2 linked regions of the Homo sapiens genome follow. The protein of the gene in region 2 purifies or fractionates together with the protein of the main gene of each other region. This does not show direct contact. Each region holds a gene or a part of one and is shown on either strand. Other genes may lie near its edges.

Region 1 (3,653 bases), on a different chromosome or scaffold from region 2:
TGTGTCTTTCTAGGTCAGCCACAGACTACACTAAGTCACCAACTCCAAAGGGGAAATTTGGCTTTTTGGTGAGTACTTGTGCTAGAGAACAGTAGAATGCATAATCTGGTCAGCTTCTCTTGGGACACACTGCCAGTGATAACAGGTTTGAAATATGCAGCAGTTCAATCATCCTGCTCACCCTCACCACAGGTGGCAAACAGGTAGGAAAAGGCCATTGCAACGCCCTGCAGCTTTTCTGGCCGATGATTTGCAAGGCTGTTTGCTATATATATATATATTTATATATGTGGCGGGATAAAAGCCACCATAAGTGAAGAGTACGTCTGTAGATATAAAAATTGCTTGCTTTTAAATCCATATAAAATTAACTATACTTGTCAATCACCATATGTATATGCTAGCTTACACACATATATATAGACATGAGCTTAAAAGTTAACCTAAATTTTTATGGCTTTCACCGGAGATAGAAAGCTGTAGTAAGACAACCAGCAGATTCCACATTAACTGGTTATCATAAAATCAGTGACAAAAAGCCTCATGTTCCATTTCTATGTACCCTCTTGCTAGAGACATGCTTTGGGAAAAAACACATAGGGTTGTGTCTCCCTTTAGTACATATGAAGACAGGGAGCTCTAGAAGATGTGGGCTGCAAGGCAGAAGAGTTTTAACACATGCACTCGCCATCTCTCCAGCTTCCTTTGCCAAGCAACTGGTTACCTTTTTTTTTTTTTTTTTTGAGACAGAGTTTTGCTCTTGTTGCCCAGGCTGGAGTGCAATGGCGTGATCTCTGCTCACCACAACCTCCGCCTCCCAGGTTTAAGTGATTCTCCTGCCTCAGCCTCCCGAGTAGCTGGAATTACAGGCATGGGCCACCACACCCGGCTAATTTTTGTATTTTTAGTAGAGATGGAGTTTCACCATGTTGGCCAGGCCTGTCTCAAACTCCTGCCCTCAGGTGATCCACCCGCCTTGGCCTCCCAAAGTGCTGGGATTACAGGTGTGAGCCACCGAGCCTAGCTGCAACTGGTTATCTTTATGTGTTAATAGCTGAAGCCCAAACTGTGGGATGAAGGCTATTGGCTGTCTGGAGCCCTGAACAGGTATGAGTGGAAATAATTCTTAACAGCATCAATGAGCAAAATCTATAACCTATGTAAAGCTGCTGTCTGGTTACCAAGCACATCTTTCCGCTCAAGAACCAACTTCAGGGAAATGGCACAAATTACACAGGAAAATCTTCTCTCTCTGGTGAAGAAACAGAGACCGCCCTTGTAGTTAAGTGCTGACCGCAGAACTGCCCACTACTGGTTATGGTAAAGGAGCTGTCCGGTAAAGGTGCCCATTACTGGTTATTACTGTTGGCAACCAGAATTCACAGGGATTTGATGGTATTCTTAGAAGTTAACCCATAATTTCTGCATTTCTGGAGCTCTTAATTGAATAAAAGCTGACGATGAAGGTTCACTATTGTAATGCTCCTTAATATACCCTTTGCATTCTAGAGCTGCTAAATTTAAGTCATCCAAAATATTAACAGTGTCAATAGCTTTTTTTTTTTTTTTTTGGGTGAGACAGAGTCTCACTCTGCCGCCCACACTGGAGTGCAGTGGCGTGATCTAGGCTCACTGCAACCCCCATCTCCCAGGTTCAAGCAATTCTCCTGCCTCAGTCTCCCAAGTAGCTGGGATTACAGGCGTGTGCCACCATGCCCAGCTAATTTTTTGTATTTTTAGTAGAGATGAGGTTTCACCGTGTTGGACAAACAGCTTTATTTTTATAAAAATGATGGGCAAGAAGATTTTAAAAATCAAAAGCAATTATACTTTGGCCTTTATGTAGTCCCAGCTACTCAGAAGGATGATTAAGCCCCAGAGTTTGAGTCCAGCCTGGGCAACACTGCAAGACCCCATCTCAAAAATAAAATGATGGAAGGGACAAGGATATTTGGCAAGTGGGTTAAGCTCATTCAGAGTATTCCTAACAGGAATTCATGTACAACTATAGATCTATTCCTAAAAATAAATATACATATACATACACAAAAAGCTATCCTAATGAAATCTTTTCCCGACTGATATTATATATTCCACTTGGAACTGTTTCCCAAATATCCACACTGAATTGTGTGCCAAGGTTCGTTCTGCTTACATGGAAGGCCCTTTAGGAGGGAGTCTATTGTCATCAGTAAGTTCCCCCACCCTTCCCACCCCGTGGTTCCAAAGATTTATAAGCTTAGAATACATTCCCAAACCACCACCCATAAAGCAAATACAGGGTCCCATTGCATTGCTACTAGATTTTGCATCAATCATAGCACCAACTATTTAATTACAATCACAGCTTTAAGTCAGCTGACAGAAATCCTATGAGCAGTTTCCTAGTGCATCGTACATCTTTGGTGTAGGGCAGGTGAAAGGGTCTACAATGTGCAGCTGTCTAAAAGAACATCTTAAAGACAACCTGGCTGACCTGTTGTTCTTCACGCCCTCTGAAAAGCAGTAAACTACAATTCCTTCTGTCAACCATTTCCTAACTACATAAAGGATCATGATGAATCTACGTGACACGCCATCCCATCACTAAAGTCTTATAACATACATACAAACATCATAGCAAAAGGAAAGAAAGAAGTTGGATGGGGTAGAAAAAAATGTCTCTAAGTGCCCCTAAATTAAAATTTCAAAAACTCCTGAGATATGAGCCTCCATTTTGATTGTGCTCAATGACTTAAAATTTGATGAAACAAACAAGCTTACAAAGAGTCAGACTTCAGACAAAATCATTTAACACTAAGTTGAGAAATCACTCTTTCGAAGCTTCTGTTTCAAACATGTTACAAACTATAATCTAGAATCAGAAATTATGAATCTCAAAATTCTTTTCAATAAAACCAAGACTTCAGATTCCTGCTAGGTACCCAAAAGAGCAGTTTGCCAGGAAAGAATTATCTAAAACCTATCCAGTAGGATTATTGCACAGTGGGGCCCACAGGACAATGATTTCCAAGGGCTAGTCCTTATATAAAAAAAGGCCACAATAAATACATCTATATATTATGCCCCACTCTAACTTGACATGGTAAACACAAATAAGATGAATTTTGCTTAAAAAAGAAACTCCTGAGGAAAGAAAAGGATGGAAAACTCTACCAAGGCCACTTAAGTCAGAAACTGTAATTACTATTTCCACTGCCACAAAGGACACTCTCCAAATAGACTGACCGTTCCAAGCACCAAGATTAACCAGTGACAAGGTTATCACACTTAGTATTTCACTCAGATCACAGCTCACACTGAGCGTTTGAAGAACTTCCTGGCAGAAGAGTCTAGAAAGGAAATAAGCTGCTGGCAATGAATCCATTCCTGAACTTAATTCCACCATTAGTCATTAAGGGTTGAGGTGTTATCAGTGAGATGCTAGCAAACCCAAACTCTAGCAAATTCCAGTGTTTAGGCCATTATTTTTCCCTCACAGTTCTTGACATCTGCAAATGGAATTATGGTTGTTCTGTTCTTTTAAGAATCTGGGTAGCACCACGTTTCACTTGCATTGTAACTCCCCCACAATATCCCATCCAATGTAATAAGGATTCATGGCAATCCATGCAGCAGCCTGTGATGCACAAAGTAGCCCAAGATTTAAACCC
Region 2 (3,382 bases):
TTTGTAATTTGAAAAAAAATACAGAGGCCGGGCGTGGTGGCTCACGCCTGTAATCCCAGCATTTTGGGAGGCTGAGGCAGGTGGATCACTTGAGGTCAGGAGTTCGAGACCAGCCTGGCCAACATGGTAAAACCCTGTCTCTCCTAAAAATACAAAAAATTAGCCGGGCGTGGTGGTGGGTGCCTGTAATCCCAGCTACTCAGGAGGCTGAGGTAGGAGAATCGCTTGAACCCGGGAGGCAGAGGTTGCAGTGAGCTGAGACCGTGCCACTGCCCTCCAGCCTGGGCAACAGAGTGAGACTCCATCTCAAAAATAAATAAATAAATAAAAATAATAAAGCCCAGAAAATTTAGAAGGGGTTATAAACAGGGACTCCCTCCCCTGCTCCCATTTTATAGATGTGTAAACTGAGGCTCAAAGAGGGAATCATTTCCTGGCTCTTGGAACTGTGGGTGTTGGGAAGCAGCCCCTTGTCCCTTCCCTAGGGGTAGACTAAGGTGGTCCCATAGCCACCCACCCCCTTTTCAGTAAAAACCACAATAAAAGAGCTTAGAAAATTTATTCCTTTTGTTCTTTTCCTTTGAAATAACACACACAGGCAGGGAGGTGGGGCGCAGTGGAGGTCGAAGGAGGTGGAAGCGTGCGGAAGTCCTCCAGCCCCTCCCCAAATCCCAGTTCCCCTTTCCAAGTCCCTCCATGGGGTCTCCAGATGATCCTAAGCTCAGAATCCAACTATGAAGTGCAGAATGTAAGGGCGCAGGGGAGGAGGACTTTGCTCCTCTCTCTGGTAGAAAAATAGATCTGGAATGAATTTGGGGATTTGGTGGTTTTTTTTTGTTTTTGTTTTTTGCATCATTGGGTGCTTGGGTTTAGGGAAGGGTGGTCTTTGCCGATTTTCTCCTGGCTTTCAACTCTGGAAGCCTGGGGAGGCCCTGATAGTGCTGGGGTGGGGACATCCCTTCATGTGTCCCTGGCCTCAGACTGTCTCCTTGCCAGCCTCCAGGAGTGAGTGATTCCTCGGACCCCTTGGAGGAACACAGCTCTGGGGACTATTCGCCTAGAAGGTGGGAGGGGGATGGAAGATGCTGTGAAGTGTGGGGATGCAGGGAGTGGAGTGGTTCCAGGGAACAGTTTCCCCACAGGGCTGGGAGGGGGTGGCCATGCAGAGGTGGGGTGAGGGGGAATCCAGCATCCGTGCAGGTTGCAGCCAGGACCTGGGCTTCCTTCCCCACAGACTCCCTCGACCATGCAATTTCATGTCATGAGAAGCCGGCTCTGGGCACCAGTGTGTGTGGGATACTCTGTGACTGGGCTGCCAGGATCTAGACTTGGGGCCTGAACATTTGGGACCCGGCGCCTGGAAGATTCAGATCAGAAACCGGGGATTCAGGGCTTGGGATTCAGTGCCTTGGAATATCAGGATCTGCCTTCAAGAGATGAGGTTTCAACATTGAGGGACTGGGCAGAGGGATTGGGGACCCAGAATCTGGAATCCAGCAGCTGCAGTTGCCAGGATCCACTTGCTGTGCCACTGGGGCCCCCGCACTTGTTTTAGGAGCCAGAATCTGGTGGGTGAAGGCTTGGGAATCTGGGATCCAGTGCCTGGGGGTGGAAGGCGTAGTGCTTGAAATGCAGGGATCTGGCAGTCAGCAGAAGGATCTGAGACCCAGTGTCGAGGTTAAAAAAAAACAAAAAACCAAAAACCAATGCAGGAATCCAGTGGGTGGAGTGAGGGGATCTGGGATCCAGTGATGGGGGCCCCAGGATCCAGGCATTGTGGTTGTCAGGATCCAGTGGTGAGGTTTGTTGACATCCAGAATCCAGCAGCTGAGCTTGGAGATCCAGGGCTCGAGGCATGGGGATCTGGGGTTGGGGATCTAGGATCCAGCGTTTCACTAGGACACTGGATCTGGTGCCTGAGGGAGGCAGGGTCTGGGTGTTGAGGTACAGGGAATCCGTGCTCCTGTGGTTGGGGTGTTGGGATCCATTCACTGATTTGTGTGGGATCCAGTGGTTAAGACGTAGAGGTCCAGGATCCAGTAGGGGGCACAGGGAAGCGTGGGATCCACCTTAGGATGTGGGGCTGCAGGATCCAGTGATTTGGGGGATGGGGATTAAGGGCTGGGGTGTGGATAATCTTGAATCTTGTGGTTAGGGTAGCAGACTTGAGTTGCTGAAGTAAGGGATCCACAGTTATGGTTACAGGGGGATCTGGGATCTAGTGGCTGAAGGGTGGGGATCGCATGACCCAGTGGTTGGGGCATAGGAGTCTAGGATCCAGGATCTGGATGCTGGGATCCCATGACCCAATGGTTGGGGCATAGGAGTCTAGGATCCAGGATCTGGGTACTGGGATCTCGTGGCCAAAGAGTAGGGATCCTGTGGTTGGATCATCAGTCTCCAGTGGCTGAGGTGTGGGGGGTGAGGGATTGGGGGGACGGGCTCCGGGTCCCTCACCTGGACGTGACCCCCAAGGCCTGCTTCATGTTCTCGTAGACCACATAGGAGATGCTCACAGCTGGAATAACCTTCATGAAGTTGGGGGCGATCCCCCGGTAGAGGCCCCGCATGCCCTCCTGGGACAGGATGTGACGTAGCAGACCCAGCATGGACAGCTGGGGGCCACCCTCGATGGAGGCTGGGAGGGGGCGGGGGGGGCACCAGGTAAGGCCAACGTTCCCCTTTCACTTCCCCCTCCTACCCCCAGGGTTGGGCCAGGTGGTGTCATTGCAGCAGGAGGGAAGGAGGTTAGACTAACAGTGGGACCTACCACTCAGAGTCGAGACTTGTATTGACCTTGGAACTGGCTGCTCACCTTTTCGCCCCAAGTTTGGGGACAATTAGAAATGGAGCAGGTATGGGTGTGCAAGGTGAGAAAGGACAGAAATGTCCTCCTCCTGGAGCCAGGTTCCCTCCCTCCTTTCCCAGCTGACTCCTACTCATATTCCCAACCCCTATCCCAGAGCCAGCTCCCCAGGGGACTCCTCCTTGGTGCTCCAGTCTAAGTCAGGCTCCTCCCTGCCCTCCACCCACTTTTTGTTTTTTAGACGGAGTTTCGCTCTTGTTGCCCAGGCTGGAGTGCAATGGTGCAATCTCGGCTCACTGCAACCTCCGCCTCCCGGGTTCAAGCAATTCTCCTGCCTCAGCCTGCCAAGTAGCCGGGATTACAGGCATGCGCCACCTTGCCCGGCTAATTTTTTTGTATTTATAGTAGAGACGGGGTTTCTCCATGTTGGTCAGGCTGGTCTCCAACTCCCAACCTCAGGTGATCCATCCGCCTCGGCCTCCCAAAGTGCTGGGATTACAGGCGTGAACCACCACACCCGGCCCTTGAACTCTTAACCTCAGGTGATCCGCCCACCTCGGCCTCCCAAAGTGCTGG

Evidence for each region. Proteins that work in one complex are often made in the same cells at the same time.
Region 1: the proteins of SLC25A23 (region 2) and DDI2 purify together in Homo sapiens (affinity purification with mass spectrometry; one large-scale study listed by BioGRID and IntAct). This does not show direct contact.

The regions. Positions count from the first base shown.
Region 1 is NC_000001.11:15,662,353-15,666,005, reverse strand, and holds part of DDI2 (protein DDI1 homolog 2), read right to left. Parts: 3' UTR 1-3,653. UniProt on the Homo sapiens protein: Aspartic protease that mediates the cleavage of NFE2L1/NRF1 at 'Leu-104', thereby promoting release of NFE2L1/NRF1 from the endoplasmic reticulum membrane.
Region 2 is NC_000019.10:6,439,522-6,442,903, forward strand, and holds the end of SLC25A23 (mitochondrial adenyl nucleotide antiporter SLC25A23), read right to left. Parts: intron 2,639-3,382; coding exon 2,454-2,638; 3' UTR 543-2,453; downstream 1-542. UniProt on the Homo sapiens protein: Electroneutral antiporter that mediates the transport of adenine nucleotides through the inner mitochondrial membrane. Originally identified as an ATP-magnesium/inorganic phosphate antiporter, it also acts as a broad specificity adenyl nucleotide antiporter.